2 separate regions of the Homo sapiens genome follow, and region 2 is linked to region 1. Evidence: fine-mapped expression QTL. A gene starts in region 1. The other region holds a variant in brackets. All regions are shown on one strand. Distances are between the middles of the regions.

The links. PIP is the estimated chance that this variant, and not a neighbour inherited with it, causes the effect.
Region 2: its variant is fine-mapped to the expression of AP2B1 in sun-exposed skin (GTEx, PIP above 0.99). The same link has a PIP of 0.9 or more in unexposed skin.

What each region holds. Positions count from the first base shown.
Region 1 is chr17:35,584,016-35,589,402 of GRCh38, reverse strand. It overlaps AP2B1 (adaptor related protein complex 2 subunit beta 1), which reads right to left and starts at 2,081. Exons shown (of 22, transcript NM_001030006.2): 1 at 1,975-2,081. RefSeq lists enhancers at 1,565-1,674, 936-2,135, 2,105-2,274 and a silencer at 1,905-2,024.
Region 2 is chr17:35,643,494-35,648,880 of GRCh38, reverse strand. All of the region lies in intron 12 of AP2B1 (adaptor related protein complex 2 subunit beta 1), which reads right to left. Among named protein-coding and RNA genes, the nearest start is that of AP2B1, 59 kb to the right of the region's middle. The variant A/G (reference allele first, on the strand shown) is at 2,238.

The DNA.
Region 1 (5,387 bases):
AATTAGTTTGTAAAGTCACTAAACCCTTCTTTTCACAAAGTGGGACTTTACAAAGCTCAGTGCTCATAGTGAAAAACTGGCCAAAGTTAACCAAATTATAAAGCAGAAATGTCATTCCAGTAATCTTTTATTATAAAGGTGAGAGGTGCCAAATTCATTTCTAATCAAATATTCAGTAATAATGCAAAGACAATAGCATCATCAGGTATTACCTTGCTCATAAGAAATTATGAGACACAAAAGCTAAAATCACCTGTGATTTCTATTTAAACATAACAGACTACAAAGTAGCTTCTTAATATTATAACGAAGCAAAGGAGTTCAAAAGTTTTACATCTAATTCTTAACCAAAATAACATTAAACTCTGGAAAACCTAAGGCTAGAAGGAAAGAAAGGACAAGAGAAAGGAGAACGTGCCCTATTTAATATATTCCTTGCTCAGCTTCGTTCAAACCTGTGCCTAAAAAGTTAGTATTTCAAAATATGGATCTTTTAAGGAAAGAAAGAATGAAAGAACTGGACTTCCTTGAGTTTCTTCATACACAGTCAGAATATTAGATTTATATTGATTTTACCACCCAGCTTTTAGTGAGGATGTTTGCATTATACATCATCCTTTCTGCTTCCTTGAAAGTTTCAACGGCTAAGATACTGCAAACAGTTCTCACCTTACCAGCACGCTTAGTCATCACTGGAATGTCTTAACACGTTTTCTTATAGAGCTGCACCTCCTTCATCTGCTGCTTTCTATTACTACTTTGTAAGTGTACCCTGAGGCTAAGCAATTGAAGTATACAAGGAAGGTAACTAATCATTTAAATTGATTCTCATTGAGACCACCTTCTTTCTTAGTCATTCTGCCTTTCTAAGCTTAATGCATTTACTTTCTTTTAAACCACAATGGTTATGATAAGTCTTTGGCAGTTTTCAAAACATTTTTTCTTCTCAAAAGTCAAGTTTGGCTGGGCGCGCTGGCTCACGCCTGTAATCACAAAACTTTAGGAGGCCGAAGCGGGAGGATCGCTTGGGCCCAGGAGTTCGAGACCAGACTGGGCTACACAGTAAGACCCTGTCACTAAAAATACAAAAATAAAATAAAATAAAAGTCAAAAGTTTAATGAAGCATCCGCGTGAGTTCAATAAAGGCCTGTCCCCCCCCACCCCACCCCTCCAATAGAAGACTACTCTTGAAAACAAGCAGCATGAACAAATGATTTGGATTCAAATGATAAGGAAATAACAGGACGTTCCAGTTTCTTTACTTTCAGCTTAATCTACAGCCTTTCCCAAACCAGACCATTACTGCAGAGCCCAGAAAAAGAAAAAAAAAAAAAAGATGCTGGGTTAAGATTTGCCCCCATTTGCTTCCCCCTCTCTTACATCGGGTCAATTCTGGAGGTTACTCTTTCCTTCCTCCAAGAGTAAGGAATGCCTCTTCTTTCCCCAGGTGGTCAAGATTCTAGCGATATGCTCCTCCATTACGGAGCAGGGAAGAGGTTGTCTCTTACCCTCAAGTTACCCGAGAGACGACGTTCGCCCATCAATGAGCAAACCTTTGAGGGAATCCCTTTTCCCTTTGGCTTGCTGGACACGTCTCAGCCTCTCAGTGAACGACGCCGAGCGGGGAAGAAAGACGGTTCCCCCCACGGCCTCCAGGCTCTATCAGCCACACCCCTGGCCTCTGGTCCCCCTAAACCCTCAATTCCGAAACACATCTTCCCCTCCTGCCCCCAACTACCTGCTGCCACACCCGAGGATTCCCTCACCGCACCACAGGCATCATGGTAGAGACCCTTTCTCCAACCTTTTCCCTCTCAATGGTCACACCCGACGGTTCCCTGCATCATCAACGGTCACGCTCTTAGGATTTCCTCGCCTCCGCCGGTCTCCGACCCAGCCTGGTGTTACCCTTCTCTCCGTCCCCGACCCCGTCAATTAGGGACACACCCTAAAGGCAACCGCCCTGAACTCACCGGAGGCGGAGGCGAAGGCGAGGGCGGGGGTGGCGGCGGGAGCCGGAGAGCACAGCCCAGGTGGTGGTGTAATGGTTTCCTGCCCGTCACGATTCTTTTCTAGGTCTAAGCCACTGCGCAAAACCCACTTTGCCAGGGACAAAGATGGTGGGCAGGAAACTCTGACGTCAGAGAACGTCGCCGCGTGACGTCATCGGGGTGCGCGGTAGACCTAGAAAGCCTGTGATCTCTTGTCGCCTTCCAGACCCAAAGATTTCCTTTGGTCCCGGCAAGCTAGCCCATCTGGGCCTCAGAGGATGTTAAGTGGCTACTCCAAAGGGATATATTTTAAAAAGCTGACAATGGATTTGTTTCCTCGCACAGAAATTCTCTGAAAAACGTAAACATAGAGATGATGAAATATCCTGTTCCTTTCTGAAAAAACAAAACCCCTCAGCTCATTTTCCTTCCAGGCTCAAGGGCGGACAATGGTGATATAGCCCAGGCCTATATACGGGCAGTGGGGCTAGAGGATAGTGCTGCACGTAAAAGAGGTTGAGGAGGCATTGGATGTGAGTTTGAATCCCTACCCTGAATGTGACTGAGACAGTTAATGTCTCATCAACCTTCTTATCTGTGAAATGAAGACAATGATAGTATCTCTCTCGGGCATGTGAAGTTTAAACCAGATAAATTAGGTAAAGTGCCTAGTATATAATAGGTGTGCTTACACAAAAGTAAGTTTCTTTCGGACACTAAGAGCTAGATTCCAGGACCTGGAACTGGAGAACAAGATTGATGATGTTAAATGAACTAGCTGTCCCTAAGGTTAATTTCAGGGTGTAAGGAAGGATGGAGAGCAAAGTGATGATTTTTCTCACATTTTGCCTATGAACTCTGTGAGTCAAAAAGTGTTTCAGTATTTTAAAACTTCATTCTTAAAAAAGTGATCAGAAGTACATTAAAATTTTGTATAACATACTCATGTATTATTATTTCCTCTGTTATTAAAATAGGGGAATAGGGGAAATTAGAAAGCCAGGTATAAGGTGAGAGAATGCAAACAGTTATGGTAAATCAGATAGCTGCATAATGTTATAGAATATTTTATGACAGAAAATTCATAAAGTGTTAAGCAAAAAAAGGACACCAAACAATACAGTATACAGTATGACTATATATGTATAGAAAAAAAAGGCTAGGATAGGCCAGGCGTGGTGGCTTACACCTGCAATCCCAGCCCTTTAGGAGGCTGAGGTGGGTGGATCACCTGATGTCGGGAGTTTGAGACCAGCCTGGCCAATGTGGTGAAACCCTGTCTCTACTGAAAAAACAAAAATTAGCTGGGGGTGGTGGCACACGCCTATAATCCCGGCTACTCAGGCGGCTGAGGCAGGAGAATGGCTTGATCCCAGGAGGTAGAGGTTGCAATGAGCCCAGATCTCGCCACTGCACTCCAGCCTGAGTAACAAAGCCAGACTCATCTCAAAAGAAAAAAAAAAAAAAAAAGCTTGGATATTCAGCAGAACGTTAAAAGTGGTTATTGCAGGATAGTGAGAGTTTTATTTTTCTTCCTAATATTTTTCTGTATTTTTCAAAGTGTTCTACAATGAACATGTATTTATTTCTATGTTGGGATGTGCCTTTTAAATCATATTGTTGAAAAATATGATACAGAAAAATGCTTTGAAATAAGAAAAAAAAAAAGATACAAAACTCTAAATCCAGAGGAGTATATATACCTATTAGTGGTTCCCTCTGGGTGCTGATTACAAATGTTATCTTCTTTATATTTGTTTTATTTTCCATTCCTTTCTCTGAAAAATGCATATATTTTAAGGAAAAATGAACCAATACTATTTTCAAAATATAGCATCAATCCGAAAGCTTTTCCAACTTCATTCTCTTCCACTTTTGGGTGAAAGTATGGACCAATCTCCCTTCTTTTCACCTTTTGGGACCATCACGGGCTCATAATCTAATGGGAGACCACTCAGGAAACTGTTGACATGATCCAGCCACACGATGATGGTGGTTTAAACAAATAACTGTTGATATTTATTATGATTTTATGTCAGTTACTCTGCTAAGTACATTTTTACATCCGCACCACCTGATAACCAAGTAGGTACTATTACTTCCTCTATTTTAAGAGATACAGAGAAGTTAAAAGGTAGAATTAAGATGGCTGGGCGCGGTGGCTCACGCCTGTAATCCCAACACTTTGGGAGGCTGAGGCGGGCAGATCACGAGGTCAGGAGATCGAGACCATCCTGGCTAACATGGTGAAACCTCATCTCTACTAAAAATACAAAAAAAAAGTAGCAGGGCGTGGTGGCGGGCGCCTATAGTCCCAGCTATTCAGGAGGCTGAGGCAGGAGAATGGCATGAACCTGGAAGGCGGAGCTTGCAGTCACACACACAGACACGCACACACACATACACACACACAAAGGTAGAATTAAGATTTGAACCCAGGAAGTCTGACACTAGGGCTGATAAGGCTTATGTTTTAGGTTAGGGCAAGGGAGGAACGGTGGTACTAGTCACTGAAAATAGGAAAATATAAGAAATGGCAGAAGTTTGGGGAAGAATAGGGAGGTGATGAGTTCATTTTATACGTTAGGTTAGAGTGAAGATCTCTACCCAAGAGGTACTTGATTATATGTGTCTGAAGATAAGGAATGATCTGGAGTTAAATTTGTGAACTGTGAGCATACAGATGATAATTCAATCTGTGGGCATGAACATTATTCATGAAGAATGTGGAGAGTGAGTGCTTGGGGTAGAAACAGATAAACCCAAGAATGCAAAGAGGACTGAGAAGGAGTAGTCAGAGAGGTAGGAGGAAAAGCAGAATAGTATATTTTAGGATGTTTTCAGAGTTTCATGAAAGTAGGGACTATACCAATCTGTTCACTCTTGCACACATGAGGCTAGCCCCATCACACACACACACACAAATTAATATATGTTGACTAAACGCATAAATAAGTGATCAACAATATTAGTTGCCATAGACAGGAGAAGGGCTAAAAAGTGTCTACAGGATTTAGTAACATGGAGGTATTTGATGTTATTGCTGAGAAATCAGTAGAGATATGAAGGCAAAAGTCATACTGCAGATGTTTGAGGATGGATTAGAAATGAGGAAATAAAAACAGGAGTTGCAGATAACTCATAAGAAAGTATGACCAAAGAAAGCAGAAATGGTATCTGAGGAAAACAGTGGCAAGGATTTTTTCTTTCTTGAGGCAGGGTGTTGCACTGTTGCCCAGGCTGGAGTGCAGTGGTGCCATTACAATTCACTGCAGCCTTGACCTCCCAGGCTCAAGCAATCCTCCTACCTAGCCTCCCAAGTAGCTGCGACTACAGGCATGTGTCACCACGCCTAGCTAATTTTCTTTTTTTGTAGAGAGGGGGTCTTGCCATGT
Region 2 (5,387 bases), 59 kb before region 1:
ACATAAAAAAAAAATCTCCCCCAATTATCCAACCCTTCTCCATCTCAACTCCCAATCCCCCAAATAGCCATGATTAGTAATGTGGTATATATCTGTCCAGATGGGTCACACACACACACACACACACACACACACACTTATTTCATATAAAACCAGTTTCATATTATATATACTGTTCTGAAGTTGCTCTCCATGTTGATATATACGACTGCACTTTTCCACTGTAATGCCCACTGCACCATTAATTATTAGTCCACTATTGAGGGACATTTTCACTGTTGCCCATTTTTCCCTTTCTACCTTTATTATTGTTTTATTTGTATGTATGTATGTATGTATGTATGTATGTATGTATGCATGTATTTTGAGACAGAGTCTTGTTCTGTCACCCAGGCTGGAGTACAGTGGCGTATCTCGGCTCACTGCAACCTCTGCCTCTCGGGTTCAAGTGATTCTCCTGCCTCTGTCTCCCAAGTAGCTGGGATTATTGGTACGCACCACCACACCCAGCTAATTTTTGTATTTTTAGTAGAGACAGGGTTTTTCTATGTTGGCCAGGCTGGTCTTGAACTCCTGACTTTAAGTCATCCGCCCACCTCAGCCTCTCAAAGTGCTAGGATTACAGGCATAAGCCACCGTGTCTGGCCTATTGTTTTCTTTATTGTTTTTGTCATCATTATAAAGTGGCAATAAATATCCTGGTACCTACCTCAAAAGTATGTCTATATGATGGCATTTATTTATGCACGAGTTGTTCCAACAGCAACTTATTAAAGGCAACAATAAGTCCCTGTTTCAATTTCTATATTTCAAACTCATAACCAGACCGGGTACAGTGGCTCATGCCTGTAGTCCCAGCTACTCAGGAGGCTGAGGCAGAAGAATCATTTGAACCCAGGAGGTGGAGGTTGCATTGAGCTGAGATCAAGTCACTGCAGTCCAGCCTGGATGACAGAGTGAGACTCTGTCTCAAAAGAAAAAAAAAAAAACAAACCCCCAAAACCCAAAAAACTCATAACCAAACAAAAAACATTTTCTTTAAAACAGGACAATCTGAGGGCTTCCATTTTAGTTTCTAAGCGAGCAGATGAATTGATTCACGATTTAGCCACTTAAGGCCCTTATCATCCAGTTCAATAGCAGTAGTTACCCTGATGTTTTTGACTATATAGATTTAAATGGTTTTTCTCAGTCACAGATTGTTTAAATTGCACTCATAATGGATTGGTGGTTAAAGACGAAAAGCATATAGAACATTGCAATACAGCAAATTAATAAAATATTAAAACAGTAAATTTTATCTCAAGATAATCTTTACATTTATAACTTGCATTATTCTAATAGAAATGTGTGTATGTGTATATGTATATGTATACATATGAATGTCTTATCAAAATGTCTCTAGTATTTGAAATGCCCGGGTTAAAAAAAAGAAACAGTGATAATTATATCTAATTTAGTTGATTTTGTTTGTGTGTGTGTGGGGAGGGGGGGCACTGAGGGACTAATTTGCTCCTAAGTGTTTATAAATAGCAGCCTGAAACCTCCTCATTTAGATCTTCATTTGAAAACAAAGCTTGAACATTATAAAACAAAAACAAGTTGATATTTTTAAAAGAGCAGAATACAAGTTTCTCAAAATATCAGGTCAGGGAAGCAACTCCTCTCTCCCACATTTTTTTATATGTAACTTAAACGTTAAATTTTAACCTATATATGCAGTCCTTAAGGCACATGTACTTTAGAATTTGTAAAGTATGGTTTTTATTACATAATTAAACACTGCATTTATCTTATTAACTTAGAAAATTCAGTTTGTCTTTATGGACTAGTAATATCTTAAAGGTATTCAACTTTATAATACATAGTTTAATAATATACTCATCAAAATAAAATGCTTTTTCTTCAAATTATTTCTCCCATATGTAATGTAAACAATTTAACCAAATGACCAAAAAGAAAAATTCCTATAGGGATTCACAAAATTCAAAAATCTCAGCCAGGCACGGTGGCTCAGTAATCCTAGCACTTCAGGAGGCCAAGGTAGGCTGATCACTTGAGGCCAGGGGTTTGAGACCAGCCTGGCCAAGATGGCAAAATCCCATCTCTACAAAGGGTACAAAAATTAGCCAGGCATGGTGGCAGATGTCTGTAATCCCAGCTACTTGGGAGGCTAAGGAGGGAGAATCACTTGAACCCAGGAGGCGGAGGAGGCTGCAGTGAGCTGAGATTGCACC[A/G]CCGCACTCCAGCCTGGGTAACAGAGTGAGACTCCATCTCAAAAAAAAAAAAAAAAATTATATATATATGAAAAAAATTTGAGAGTTCCTCTACAGATTATTCAAAATGCTGCAATATGGCAAACTACTGGAGATAGAGTTACTGGATCAAAGTCTAAACAGACACTAACTTGAAAAATACAATCCTATGAGAAATGAGTGCAAATCTCCCAAGGCTGAAAAGTCAGGAGTAGGGAAGAATCTCCTAACTGCTCAAACTCTGTCGTTCTGAGGGATGACCTGTTAGGCCTACTGTAAGCCAGTCCTCACCAACTGCCTCACATTTTACATGGAGGCCACAGTAATTCAGACCGTCAAGACCGAGATAAATAAAAATACAGGACCTTTTTGTAATCTTAAGTTGCCATTAAATGTTTGGTGACTCAGATAATTTGGCTTTGGATCTACTGTACTGCTAGACCCATAGGCCTTCCTCAGGGGAAGAGGTCCCAAAACAATACTTACCAGGCCAGCACTAAAACAGTAATTCTTAAACTATAATGTGCATCAACATTTTAACATACCAGGAATGCCACTGAAAGTGCAGAACCCAGGGGCCATACTTCAGAGATTCTGATTCATTACATCAAAAGTAGGGCCTAGTAATTAGTATTTTTAACAAGCAGCCCAAATGATTCTGATGATGGTGGCCCCTAGTTCATAGACAGAAAAACATGAAGACTTCTATTCCATGTATCACAAAGAATAATTACTAACGTCTAGACATTTTTTTGTTTTGTTTTGTTTTGTTTTTTGAGACAGAGTCTAGGTCTTCTTGCCCAGGCTGGAGTGTAATGGCACGATCTTGGCTCACTGCAACCTCTGCCTCCCGGGTTCAAGTGATTCTCCTGCCTCAGCCTCCCGAGTAGTTGGGATTACAGGCGCATGCCACCACGCTCGGCTAATTTTATATTTTTAGTAGAGATGGGGTTTCTCCATTTTGGTCAGGCTGGTCTCGAACTCCTGACCTCAGATGATCTACCTGCCTCGGCTTCCCAAAGTGCTGGGATTACAGGCATAAGCCACCATGCCCGGCCTTTGTTTGTATTCTTTACTCAGTTGAACTGAATATTGTATTGAATTTCTGTGTAACAGGTAAGAGAAAAAGATAAATTTTTGAAATGAAGCCTCAGATTCAAGGGTTGGGTTTTTCCCCCTAACTAATAATATTTTTAATTATACTCCCATTTTACTTAAAAGCACTAAGATTTCACATATACTTCACTTAATTCTCAGCACAGGTAAAGAACAGTATTAATTAACTCTACTATAGAGACAGAAGAAAAGCAGTATGAAAGAAATTTGCTCAGTCATGTCCAGAATCAGTGGAAGTAGCATCATCAGAACCTCACTACCCAATTTAAGTTAACATGTGCTCGCTTCGGCAGCACATATACCAATTTAAGTTAACACAATTCAGCCGACCACATTGCATCCTAAACTTAAATTGGTACTCACTAGCCATAAATATTTAGGTTCTTATTTCACAAACTTGGGGAAAAAACAGAAAACTTCCAGGTAAAAAGACTTACATAGGCATACTTATTCTTTTTTTCTTTCTTTTTTTTTTTCCGAGACAGAGTCTTGCTGTATTACCCAGCCTGGAGTGCAGTGGCATGATCTCAGCTCACTGCAACCTCTGCCTCCTGGGCTCAAGCGATCCTCCCACCTCAACCTCCCAAGTAGCTGGGATTACAGGCGTGTGCCACTATGCTCCGCTAATTTTTGTATTTTTTGTAGAGATGGGATTTTGCCATGTTGCACAGGCTGGTCGAATTCCTGAGTTCAAGTGATCCGCCCGCCTTGGCCTCCCAAAGTGCTGGAATTGCAGGTGTGAGCCACAGCACCCAGCAGCATACTTACTGTTTTATGATAACTTCTCAGACTTCATTAATTAATTGGACAGAAAAAGCAAGCCTCAGCCAGGCTCTGTGGCTCACACTTATAATCCCAGTGCTTTGGGAGACCAAGGCAGGAGGATCACATTAGATCAGGAGTTCAAGACCAGCCTGGCCAACATGGTGAACCCTCATCTCTACTGGAAAAAAAAAAAAAAAAAATTAGCTGGGCGTGGTGGCATGCACCTGTAATCCCAGCTACTCAGGAAGCTGAGGTAGGAGAATTGTTTGAACCCGGGAGGTGGAGGTTGCAGTGAGCCGAGATCACGCCACTGCACTCCAGCCTGGGTGACAGAGCTAGACTCAGTCTTGAAAAAAGGCAAGCCTCGAGAAGTTGCTTATTATTTATAGTATGAAATAATCATCCACAAAGACCTTAAAACTAGCAAACACACATATACATATGGGCTTATGCTCAATATTGCTTCAGGCAGGGAATAGGTATTCTCCAAGTCATTCTTAACCTTCAGACTAGAGAGGAAGCATAGCACAGTGGACAAGACCATGGGCAAGACCTAGAGCCAGACTATCTGAGTCTGAGTCCTAGTTCTGCCCCATAATAATTAGGCCTCTCTGAGTTTCCTCATCTATAAAATAGAAATCGTTTACTAACCCTTACTAGGATTAAGTGAGTTTCTAGCCTGTCCTGTTCTAGGAAGCTTATGAAAAATGCATCTAAGGCTAAAGAGCGTTAATTAAACCCAGAGTCAGGAAACTGCATGCCACAGTGGCCTACATAGTTTCCATGGGAGATTGTTAAATGTGATTCTAAGGTTTCAAACAACCAATATGGAAAAGAAAGCTGATCAGGCATGCTACACTGATACACAGAAAAATCCAAAACTTGTTAGAAATTTGATGGGGCTTCATAAAGAAGAAAACATAATGAAGTAAGTAATGACTCTGATAACAAGCTAACAACAGATCCAAATAGGGTAGTTTCCCATGACGACTGTTATTACTACAGACTGATAGTATTTTAGTATCAGCGTAATTTAGTAAAAGCAATTTTATTAGGGGTCAAAAACAATGCAGTCCAGGTATCCAGATGTCTATTAATAATGCTTGATTCAGAGGTGAATTTCAGACTATCTGTAAGAACAGCACTACCTTGTATCCTTTAAGCAATCCTTCCTAAATACTTTATCTCAGTCAAATTTTGATAAATACTTAAGAGGTAATGAGACTGAGTTTGAAGTCTGGCCAGAATTCG